2 linked regions of the Homo sapiens genome follow. The protein of the gene in region 2 purifies or fractionates together with the protein of the main gene of each other region. This does not show direct contact. Each region holds a gene or a part of one and is shown on either strand. Other genes may lie near its edges.

Evidence for each region.
Region 1: the proteins of SH3BGR (region 2) and DCP1B purify together in Homo sapiens (affinity purification with mass spectrometry; 2 studies listed by BioGRID and IntAct, with this or other methods). This does not show direct contact.

Annotation. Positions count from the first base shown.
Region 1 is NC_000012.12:2,001,440-2,008,642, forward strand, and holds the start of DCP1B (mRNA-decapping enzyme 1B), read right to left. Parts: upstream 3,019-7,203; 5' UTR 2,993-3,018; coding exon 2,843-2,992; intron 1-2,842. UniProt on the Homo sapiens protein: May play a role in the degradation of mRNAs, both in normal mRNA turnover and in nonsense-mediated mRNA decay. May remove the 7-methyl guanine cap structure from mRNA molecules, yielding a 5'-phosphorylated mRNA fragment and 7m-GDP.
Region 2 is NC_000021.9:39,510,957-39,516,021, forward strand, and holds the end of SH3BGR (SH3 domain-binding glutamic acid-rich protein), read left to right. Parts: intron 1-723; coding exon 724-819; 3' UTR 820-853; intron 854-4,131; coding exon of another isoform or gene 4,132-4,203; 3' UTR 4,204-4,548; downstream 4,549-5,065. Other genes in the region: GET1-SH3BGR (WRB-SH3BGR readthrough), read left to right, coding at 724-819.

The DNA.
Region 1 (7,203 bases), on a different chromosome or scaffold from region 2:
ATTCAAAATACTAAAAAACCCAAAATGGAATATAAAATAGTGCTGTTTTGCAAATTTTGGGGACTCTGCACACTGTCTGACACAAACTAGCTCAACGCAATCTCTATTTTAACTTGATTATTCTCAGTTAAAATAATCAAAAAGTAGGTCTCAACTTATCCTCCCAAATCTCTCTTCATCATGCATGTAGCACGTGAGTCACCTATGAGGCTTTCAACAATATGAAATGCCTGGGTCTCATTATCCAGAGGTTTTAGTTTGGCATTTTTCACTTTTAAAAAACTCTGACTTATTTGGATACACCAAAAACTTAGAAAACCACTAGCTAGGAACACAACGTTAGTCACTTTAGGGCAGTTTTCAGGCTCAGCATTCCCTGGCCTCTACTCTATAGATGTCACAACACTCTTCCCTTCAGTGTGACAACCAAAAACGTCTCCAGACACTGCCAAATGTCACCTGGGGGCAAAATCAACTCCAGCTGAGAGCCACTGGTCTAAGGACTGACAGCTGGAAAATACCAGGGTTATGGTCTTCAATTGACACATAGGTATTAATATTTTGGAGGCGGGGGGCAGTCTTTCCTGGCAACAGGGAGTAGGTCTAACTCTAAAATTCCTATTCCAGTCATCACATAATCTTTCTTAATCCTTCTTTAAAGCAGTTCATTTTCTAGACACCTTTCCTTCCTAATTTCTCCTCCTTTGAAAGGCTGAAGTCATTCTTCATCCATTTTCAGGGCAATAAGAATTCCCCTCCTTAAGATCCCCCCTGCCTTCTTGTAAATACTTTCTCCTCTATTCTCAACAATGTTCTCATATTCTTATTAGGTTTACATTCAAACGGCTCCCATCCACAGTGACAGCACATGGAGACAGTGGTCATAATTAGTTTGCCTCCAGCAACTGCTCTGCAGTTGAACTAGGTCTCTCTGTTTTTCTGGCTACCACAGCCTTGAAGATTAGAACTTTGAAAGAATGACCTTTTCCTGAATGAATTATGCCCTGTCTGAAGGCAACATATCCAGCAAGCAGGAAAACATAACTCCTGTAATTAATGCATTGTGACACATCTGCTTTTTGATGAGGCTTTAGGTATCTAATAAACATCTGTAACTATCTTAAAAAGGTATCTATCACATTGATAAGGGTCAAAAGCCTATAGGAAACAACTATTATTCAAGAGAAATGCTCTACTCTCTTTATACTGACAGTTTCTTGGGATTCTCCAGACTCGAATCCCAGTGTCAAGTCAACTTACAGAACTATACATCCCTGGTCCTCATCTCTCTACTACGGAATTACTTTTACAGGATTATAACATTATACCTTTAGCATTTTTCTACAGAGCAGCAAAATAGCCATATGTAGAATATCTTTTTATATATTTTTAATTACCATGGAGGAAACTGTCTATGTTGCTCAATGTTCTTTATGTAAAAACGAAGGTGACACCTCGAAAAAACAAACAAACAAAAACAAACAAAAAAAGTAGGTGACAAATTCCCCTGGAAACTAGGGGGAAATAACCTCTTTCTCCTGATCAAGAGGTACACTTTCTATTACAGAAGAACGAATATTAAAGAGCTCTTCCTGTTCTCCTTTTGTGTTTGGCTACTAGGAGAGCAGACCTAAATTCTTTGCCCCATTCCGGCAAATTTCCTCCGTTAAGAACTTTGGGCAAAACTGTTTGTCTACCCCATTCTTGCTTGTCTTTTTATTTTTATGTTAATGATTTTCAGGTGAGTTTTTTACTACAGGCTGCTGAACTATACTGCAGATAAGTAGGCTTATGAATGTGGGTGTTAAAAAAAATACAGAGTTGTTCAACATGGATGTTTTCCTAGATTAAGTTTTGATGTTTATACAACCGACTTGAAGAACACAAAAAGTTTATCTGAAATCCATTCATCAAGGCTAAGTTCTCCATACTGTTTTGTAACTTATTTTAAAATGATGGATATCATGTATGTGATACATAATGGATGATGAATATTATTTGGACAAAACTCATTATGAGTAAAGAAACAAAATTACATGTCTCTACATTCGAGTGGGTGGGTTACAAAATTACAAGCAGCAATCCCTGCAACAGGATTCCAGTGTTCTAGGCTTCTACCCCATTCTAACTATGAGGAAAATGAAATTTCATTCCATTACCATTTACTGGGACTCTGCTTTGAGAAGAGCACTAAAATAATTTGGCTCCCAAATGACCTCCAATATCGAACTTGGTGTGCTGCCGTGTAATAATCTTCCCAAGAGCATCAGCTTCCTTCTAAGTGTTAGACCCTGCCCCATTTTGTCTTTTATTTGACGAGGTTGGCTCTTTTCTTGGTGTTTCCCCTTAAGTTTACAACTTGCAGATTTCTCCCCTTCTATCAAGTTTTGATTTCTCTTTGCCCCATCTAAGACTGACATTCCAAAATCAGAACTCTGCACTTTTATTCGTCTGCTGTCCCTGCCTCCCCCATAGCCACAGATTCACTGTAACAGAACTCTGCTCTACTTTCTCGAGCACATCGGTCTTCCGGCCATAAGGTATCAGGTCCTTCCTTTCCTTCGGCTCTTATGGTGCCGTACCCGATCGGTCTGGTCTCCCAGCGTTGGGTACGTTAGAGATTTAAGTCTTTTCCCCAACTCCAGGTAGCTCCACAGATCCGCCTTCCTTCCCCCAAACCCCCGAGACCCCATCTCCACAACTTCGGCCTCAGTCCCCAGATCCACCCACTTCCAGGGCGTCAACGTCTCCTCCCCCTCACCGGGTCCTCAAGTCCTGAGTCTGACGCCCCCCGCCTCCACCCCAACCCTGGGCTGCACTGCTCCGCCGCGTCCGCACGCACCCACTCGTTGGCCCGATGGCCGAAGGTGTACAGAGCCACCTGGCTGGCCACGTCCACGATGCGGTTGATATAGGGGTCGTGGCGCTGCAGGGCCGCTAGGCTGATGTCGCGCCCCTTTCCCACCAGGCCGCCTGCCGCCACGGCTGCCATCTTCCCTCCCTCCCAGACATAGGCACGGGGCTCTTGGAAGCCACTCTCAATAGATCGCAGAACGAGCGAGCTGCCTCGCAACCGAGAACCCACGGCGACCACACGGCCCGGGAGGCCTTCCGGCTCCAGTCACCCCCACCCTCCTGCCCGCCGACAGACGCAAGGCCTCACTAATCGATGGCCGCGCCCCGCCCACTGAGGATCGTTGCCACTGGCAACGACAAGCCCAGGCCTGCCCTCTGCATCCCGTTTCTTTCTCCAAGAGCTGTTTTTCTACGCGCTCGAGCCTTTGAGCTGTGTGTGCGGTAGGATTTCCTTCTTGGATGTGTTCGACCCCTTGGCATATCTTTTCTTTGGCGCTTCAGTGATCAAATCTATCACAATAAATAAGCCTCGAGCATCAAGAACTCTGAAGAGAAAGAGAACTGAATTGATTTCTGAATGCGCTAACACCCAGTGGTTCTCAAAGTGTGGTGTGGTCCTGGAACCCTTTGGGAGTTTCTGAGACCCTTTCAGGGGATCTGCAAGGTCAAAAAAAAAACAAAACCTTTTATGACAATGCTGAGACTTACTTATTTGACTTGTTCACTGTGGTGACGTTTTGCAGACAATGGTGGTTAAAAGCGCCGGTGGTTTAACCCAATCAAGGCAGGGGCACCAAACTGTATTGCTAGTCAAAGTACGCGTCACTAATCTGCACTCTCAGTTACAAAAGAAAAAAAAAAAAAGAAGAAGGTAGAGAGCCAGTGTCACCTGATGGTGTTCTTGATAAGCAGTAAGAATTATTAATTTCATTGAAGCTTAATCCTTGGGTACAATTCTTTTTAACATTCTGCATGAAAAAATAGGAAATAGGCATAAAGCACGTCTGCTGCAAAATGAAGTGTGTCATATTTGTCTCTAGGAAAATACTTCTGTGCTTGAGTTGTAGGCCGAATTCATGTTTTTATTTTTATTTTCATAAAACATTTTTACTTGAAAGAAAGATGGGCAAACTATGATTATTCAAACAGGTACTTGACAGACATTTTTCTGAAAATAAATAAAGTGTGCCTGTCACTTTCAGGAAAACAAGGGACAATTACTGCTGCCAATGATAATTTTTAAGCCTTCAAGCCAGAATTAAAAGTTTAGAAAATGTGTATCTACTGCCATGAGCTTGACATCTCAGTACTTAATGTTTTTTTTTCTGATGAGATCAGTGATGATATTAATGAGCGCAATTTTAACAAATCTTGTATAATGGAAAGTGTCAATATCTCAAAGATCTGCTTAACTCAGTGGTCCAGTATTTTCCAAAAGACCAATGTCTCATGCTACATAATCATGCACAGGCAAAAGATCCATTCAAGGACAAGGTGGACTAATGGATTTTTAATGTAACAGTATGAAAAGTTAATAGGATTTCAGATAGTACATTGCAGCTAAGCTTTGAGAAACTCCAGCTTGTCAAGTTTTGGTATATTATCCAAGAAGAATATCCACAATTGTCTGAAAAACTCTATTAAAATATCCATCTCTTTTCCAACTACATTATCTACATATGAGGCCAGAGTTTCTTCATATACTCCAAACAAAACACACATAGCCCGGGGTCTTTAAAGTTATTTTTAATTTCCAATATGGTAAATATAGGTGGGTATAACTCACATAAACAAAAGTTCTCTGAGGGAGTCCTTAATAATTTTTAAGAGTGGGCCAGGTGCGGTGGCTCCTGCCTGTAATCCCAGCACTTTGGGAGGCTGAGGCGGGCGGATCACAAGGTCAGTAGTTCAAGACCAGCCTGGCCAACATGGTGAAACCCCGTCTCTACTAAAAATACAAAAATTAGCCAGGAGTGGTGGCAGGTACCTGTAATCCCGGATACTCGGGAGGCTGAGGCAGGAGAATCGCTTGAACCCGGGAGGCAGAGGTTGCAGTGAGCCGAGATCCTGCCACTGCACTCCAGCCTGGGTGATAGAGCGAGACTCCATCTCAAAAATAAAATAAATAAAAAGTAATTAAAAAAATAATTTTTAAGAGTGTAAAGGAGTCTTGAGACTAAAAAGTTGAGAATGGTTGATCTAAACCATTTATCTAGCATTAAATATTAGAACAACTGTGCAGACATTACTACTCACATTCATAAATTCTTACCTATTTGATATAGAAATATCATAGATACGGCACACATACCCTCTCATAATAATATGTTGCAATATAATCTTTGCAGTCACAATTTCAATTGTACTGAAATTCTTGGTTAAGCTGCATTTTGGAGTCTCAGTCCTATTGACTCCCAAGCCTAACTTCCCAGTGGGGAAGAATACAGCAATGGCTTTCAAACAACTTTTTTTTGACTGAGGCTGGGGTCATTTGCAGTCTGACTGAGAACATATGTTTATATATTTATACCTGATATTAACTAGAATAAATGTTTCAATACTAAGTATACAGACATTTTTTAAAATGCTATTTGTGACTTTGTAAATTGGTTTCATGACCAACTAATGGATTGTGACCTGTAGTTTGAAAAACATAGGGCTGCAGCAACTGAGCAACCACACAAAGCTGACTAGACAACTTTCCATGTTAGTTCACTACCTTTTTCCAGTGTTACTGACCTCTTTGCTCTTAATCACATATGTGCTTCTAAAAACAAGTTTAATCTGTAATATGGGCAATGGAGAATTTTGTGATTAATTCTTGAACTAGTCACACTCTCTCACTTGATTAGCTGTTCTAATTTTGATTTTTCAGCATGAACCCACAGATTCTACTTTGCATTTCCCTCGTACATATAATGAGGCATTGTTTTTCTTTTGTCTGTTAAGTTCCATGATCCTTACACAGATCATTGTCCTCATAATTTTTCAGTCTTTCCATCTTTAAAGTGTAAAGAATAGATCATGGCCTCCAAAGAACGAATTGCTTTGAGCTCATTAGAGAAGACAGGCAATATAGGGGCCATTGTAAAAGCTTAAATGTTCATAAAACAAAAGTGTATACAAGTCTTAGTGATCTGTATGACTACAATTGCAAAGCATTTATGGAGTGCTCACTTGATGAAATTCATTAATTCTTCATGATTTATTATTGCTTCTTGTGTCTGTGCTGAAATTACATGGTCATGTCTTCTCCAGTCTTTGATCTCACTGATGAGTAAGATGAAGATACCCTTACTTTGCTTACGGGGAAAATTTCACATATGTGAACAACATGCTAATATGACCCTTAGTAGAGAAGAGTTAATTTTTTGTGTGTTTAGAGTTAATGAAACAACCCATCTTCTGTTCTAACCTCCTTGTATCTGAACTCTTTTCTCCCAAGTATCTTACACATTCCTATCTCTGTACCTTTGCCCATCTGTCTTCTTAGCTTGGAATGACCTTTTCCTGGAAAACTCACCTCCTGTCTTCTCCCATACAATCCTTTCAGCCTATGAATCCTCATTGCATTCTGTTGCGATTTTTCTTGTGGCACTTAGCTCACTTTATCCTGACTTAGACTTATTTATTTACTACGTTACATATACATTTTTTTCCAATTCTAAAAAAAAACAGTCATTGTAATAAAAGAGAATTGTTATAGAAAATCTAGCCTGAAAACATTATTGCAATTGAACAAGAAATTGGGCTTTGAGTTTCTTGACAGATAAGCAAAAAGGAGGAAATAGTATGTTTCATAAAGTTTTACTTATTTATTTATTTATTTATTTATTTTTTGAGACAGGGTCTTTCTCTGTCGCTCAGGCTGGAGTGCAGTGGCACAATCACAGCTCACTGCAGACTTGACCTCCTGGGTTCAAGCACTCCTCCCACCCCAGCCTCCCAGGTAGCTGGGACCACAGGCTGGTGCCACCATGCCCGGCCAATGTTTTTTATATTTTGTAGTGATGGGGTCTCACTACGTTGCTCAGGATGGAGATGTTATTTTTCATGTTTTGTAGTGATGGGGTCTCACTATGTTGCTCAGGATGGAGATGTTACTTTTTATGTTTTGTAGTGATGGGGTCTCACTACGTTGCTCAGGATGGAGATGTTATTTTTTATGTGCTTATCACCACGTAGTCTCCCTAGCACTTGGTCCAATGCCTTGTACATAATAGAGATTCAATAAATGCTTATTCTTTTGAACTAAACCCTGAGTTAGTTGAATTTACTCATTAAATGTCAGCATTTTTTAAAGAGCTCATGATTTATAAAATAATGAAATCCAAGTTGGGATAAAAA
Region 2 (5,065 bases):
TTTGTAAAGGTTATTTGCTGAGAATGGTTTGTTAATATGAGTGGAGACTGTACACTTAGGTGGGATTATAAAACCTGTTAGGATTAACATATCATTCTAAAGCACCATTCTAAATTGAGGACTCTGTGTTTAGAAGGATGATTTTTTTTATGTGTGTGTATGTATGTGTGGTATGTGTGGTGTGTTGTATGTGTGGTGTATGTGTATTTGTGTGTGGTGTATATGGTGTGTGGTGTGTTTGGTGTGTGTGTGTGTGATGTGTGTTATGGTGTGTATGTTATGGTGTGGAGGGTATGTATGTGTATGTGTGATGTGTATGTGTATATTGTGTGTGTATTTGTGGTATATGTGATGTGGTGTGTGGGGTGTGTGGTCTGGTGTGTGTGTGTGCTATGTGGTGTTTGGTATTTGTGTGTGGTGTGTATGTGGTGTGTGTGCGTGGATGTGTGTCTGGGTGGTGTGTGGGGGGGTGTGTGTGCTGTGTGTCATGTGTGTTTCCGTGGTGTGTGTGTGTTTGGGCGGTATGTGTGTGGGGTGTGTGTGTGGCATGTGTTTGTGTGGCATGTGTGGTGTGTGTATTTGTGTGTTGTGTGTGTTTGTTTGTGTGTTGTGTGGTGGGGTGTGGGAGGCTTTGACCTCTAGTCCAGCATTTTACAGTCTTTTTCTCACTGTATCCTTGGCCCTTATGCTTCTTAATACTAATGTAAGTTTTGTTAAAATAAGACGGAAGAAATAGCCATGGAGGGTGCGGAAGGGGAAGCCGAGGAGGAGGAAGAAACTGCAGAAGGAGAAGAGCCTGGAGAAGACGAAGATTCCTAGGCCTTTTCATGCTTCATTTCTTCCACTTCTCCAGGTAGCTACAGGATTCTGGGGTGGAAAAGCTGCTAGTTACCGTACTGTATGCTATCTGCGGCACATTTTGCTTAGTAACAGGAGAAAGGGAATTCCAATTCAGGGCTGTCTGTCTCCTTCCAAAGCCCTGGTCTGCACACCTTTCTGGCGGGGTCCAGCTCCTTTCTAGAGCTGCGGGGCTGCTGACCTTTCGTGGGTCTGTTTCTTGCACACTAGGGCACAGAAGGCTATGGTTGATGGGATTTCTAGGAAAAAGTGCACCTTTGATGCAGGGAAGAGTTTTGTTTTGCATTTACTTCCTCCTCTTCCTCTATATAAACTTTGTTTGAGAGAAGATACAGCAAGTGTCCTTTTATCAGCATTCTGTAACCTCAACTCCTCCACCAACCACATGTACAACTTTAGGGGGGTGACTACTGATGTTCAGAATGATGGCAATAAATTATAACCTTAAAAAATCACAAAGCTGGTGTTGAGTCATGAAAGAAAATTATTGCTGCCACGGGTTTAGTCGTCAGTGCTTGGTACTCCATTTCCGTTTCTATTAACCAGAACGCTCCTCTGGAAACACCGGGGAACATGGTGAAGTCCCTTTAGGTATCTTTGACAAGTAAGCTCTTGCTGCCTTCTGGTTTTAAACTTCCCTTGATGATGGAAAATAATTATGTAATTCTTACTAGTTTGATAAGTGCCACATATTAGTGAACATTTATTAAGTGTTAATAAGACAATAGAATCTGATAATGGATCTTGAGGACATGGGCGAATGCTTAAATATTGTGAGCCATACAGATAGGACAGCATGCGTGAAAACCCCTAAAGACATGAAGTGCATTAGCCGGGTGGGGTGGCTCATGCCTGCGGTCCCAGCTACTTGGGAGGCTGAAGCCTGAAAATCACTTGAACCCGGGAGGCAGAGGTTGCAGTGAGCCAAGATTGCACCACTGCACTCCAGCCTGGGTGACAGAGCAAGACTCTGTCTCCAAAACAAAAACAAAAACAAAAAACAAAACAAAACAAAACAGAAGACATTAAGTGCTATAAAAATATCTGTTTTTTCCTGATATTTGGCAAATACCTAGGTACATGTTGTATTATTATTAATATGATTGGCTTTGCAACTGAATTTGAGGCCATAGTTTATTCTCTAGGGCAACATTGCTCATGGTTTTGCTCTGGAGCTATAAGCGTTTTTTAAAAAATTTAAAAAAGTTTAGTCTTTTTATCTCCCATATTATGCCTCCACTGAAAATTAAGACGGCTTTTTGGGCTGTTACTCTCAGGAGATAATGATGGAATATGCACTCATTATTCTCTAAATGAGAGACACTTATCAAACCAGTAAGAATTACATAATTATTTTCCATCGTCAGTAGAAGTTTAAAATTACAAGGCAGCAAAAGCTGACTTGTCAAAGATACCTAAAGTGACTTCACCATGTTCCCCAGGCAGGTCTCTAGTTAAGAATTGGTGCATGTACAAAGAAGGGTGGATAGAAGGGTTTATTTGGAGAAGGAAGAAGAAATCTTTGGTGCTCTTTAAAAATTGGCTGACAAATAGCAATGCTCTTTGCACCAAAGTCCAATTTGAATAGTAGGGATGTCCCTTCTTAATAGACTTACAAAAAAAAGCTGATATAAAAAGCACTTAATCTATTTTTAGAGCATCTTGGAGCTAGTGAGGGTGGCCATCACACTTTGTTATTGGACCATAAAGGTTTTGTCATTCATTTGCTTGAATGAGAAAGTGATTCTAGCCCACGATTTGATGTCTCTCCAGGGTGTTTCTTTCATGCTCTGGACCCACAGACTTCTACTTTAAAGCCCTCTGCTTGCCACTTGGTTACAATTCCATTTCTAAGGAGTGGGTTGGGACTCATTTTTGAAAAAAAGGAAACTGGCAAGCTTAAGATATTCTACCTGAAGAATGGTAGAAAATGAAAATATGATTATATTTATCCTCATACCAGAAACAAAACAAAGCAAAACCCACAGTAACAGACTCATTGGTCCTGTTTAAATCCATGTCTGTTCACTCAGCTTGGAAAGTTCTTTAAAAATTGTGCAGTTTTAATGTGATAATTATAAAGAAATATTGGATGTGAAATGGCACAGCCGAGAGAGAATCTTTAATGTAGACAGATGGCTTCTTTATAGGCCATTTCCAAAAAAGAAAGAAAAAAAGGCAAGTTACAGTTGTGGCTAGCACATTCTGCCTGTTTCTCTGATGGGTTCTAGTTTGGAATCCAGTCCCTAATAGTCTGTTGTGAGGTCAAAATGTCTGACAGTGAAGGAGTAAACCAGGCAGCACCCTAAATCCCAGCCACTGACTCCCGAAGAGAGTCAATAACCTTTAAAATGCGACATGATGATGCAGTCAGGTATTCTGCAAACTATTTGGCTTCCAAAAACAAACCCATCTCATAACTCATAGATTATCCATGCATTTTATTTGAAAAGACGATTTTAGACAGAACAAGGCAATGAATGGAACTATGAAAGAATTCTCATTTCCCATAGTTGAAGTTGGAGTCAGAATCTATTATTATTATTATTTATTTATTTATTTTATTTTTTGAGACAGGGTCTCACTCTGTCACCCAGGCTGGAGTGCAGTGGTGAGGTCATGGCTCACTTTGACCTCCCTGGTCTCAGGTGATCCTCCCACCTCAGCTTCTTGAGTCGCTGGGATTACAGGCACGCACTACTATGCCTGGCTAATTTTCGTATTTTTTGTAGAGATGGGGTTTCACCATGTTGCCTAGGCTGGTCTCGAACTCTTAGGCTCAAGTGCTCTGCCCACCTTGGCCTCCCAAAGTGTTGGAATTACAGGCATGAACCACCACGTCTGACCTAGAATCTAAATTGATGTTTGAGTCCCAGGGCAAATAATGTCCAATATGAGACTGGATTCTACCTCCCCAAAGCTTGCCACTTAATACCTTCTTCTGGTGTAGCCATGAACCATTTAGAGCTCCGCCTCTGGGACCAAGCTGTCAATTCAGCCTATTTTCCATGAAAACACAGTGGGAAATTATAATTGGAGATGTTGTCTTCCTTATGGTGTTTGATATGTGTTTATGCAGAGAAAGGATATAAATCTAGCTTAGTTTTCCATGAGACAAATTCCCTTTCCTTTCAGTGGGGAGCAAATGATGACTAGTGGTTTATAGAATAAAAGGCAACACTTTCCTTTATTGTATGTTAAGTGATGAAGATTGTGGTAAACATTCTGTGTCTTTCTCTACAGTCTTTCCCTAATATTTGCCTTTTCTTTTAGAAAATGGAAGCTATGAAGCAACATTTCAAATGTCTCTCCACAAACCAAACTCAACAGAATACTTTGGCTTGAAGCCGGCACACCCAGGGTTACTGAGGACTTATGCTGCCTGACCTGGTTAGATGTACATGGAGGTATCTCCCGAATCATACAAAATTAAATGTGAAGACCGTTTATGCATACCTTCATGTGCCTGACAGTCTTGGCTTTTGAAGATTTTTTTTTCTTTTTTGCTCTGCATAGCTAGACCATCTTATTAATAATACTCTGAAAAAAATGATTTCAAGGCATGGAAGTTCTCTGTGATACAACAATAGTATTTCTTCAAATGCGCCTTATGCTACTTATCTCAGAAACAGGTTTTAAAATGAAGTGCTTTCCAGAGAACCATCATATAAATAAAGATTAATAGAAAAATATCTTGTCCCAAGGAGCATCATTTCATTATTTATAGTCTCTGCTTGCATATGCCTGAACTCCGTCTGTCTGTTGCCAAGTCTAAATCTTCAGCAGCACTTTTCTGTCTGCGTTGGGATCGATGTCTTTTATTGCACTGATTATTTGGTCCATGTTTTCAATTGCATTGATTGTCTCATTACGTCGTATTTTTTTTTTTATTACACACACGTTGTGCGTATCATCTTTGAAGCCTTATCTAACTGTAACTTTATCATCCACTTGTGTGGGGATGATGGTAAGGAGGGATGATGGTAAGGACAGAAATCTGCAACCCAGTGCCCTTCACACGTTTCTGAGCTGAAGGGAGTGGCTGCTTCTGTTTCTCCTGCTGTTGATTGATTTGTAGCCATGGCTGTGGAGACGGGTCCTGTAATTTTTCTTCCTGATGGCCAGGAGTGTGTGTTCACCTACAGCTGATCCAGCTCCAATGACTTGTACACCAGGTAAGTTTGATAGCATTTCTCTGCTCACCTGC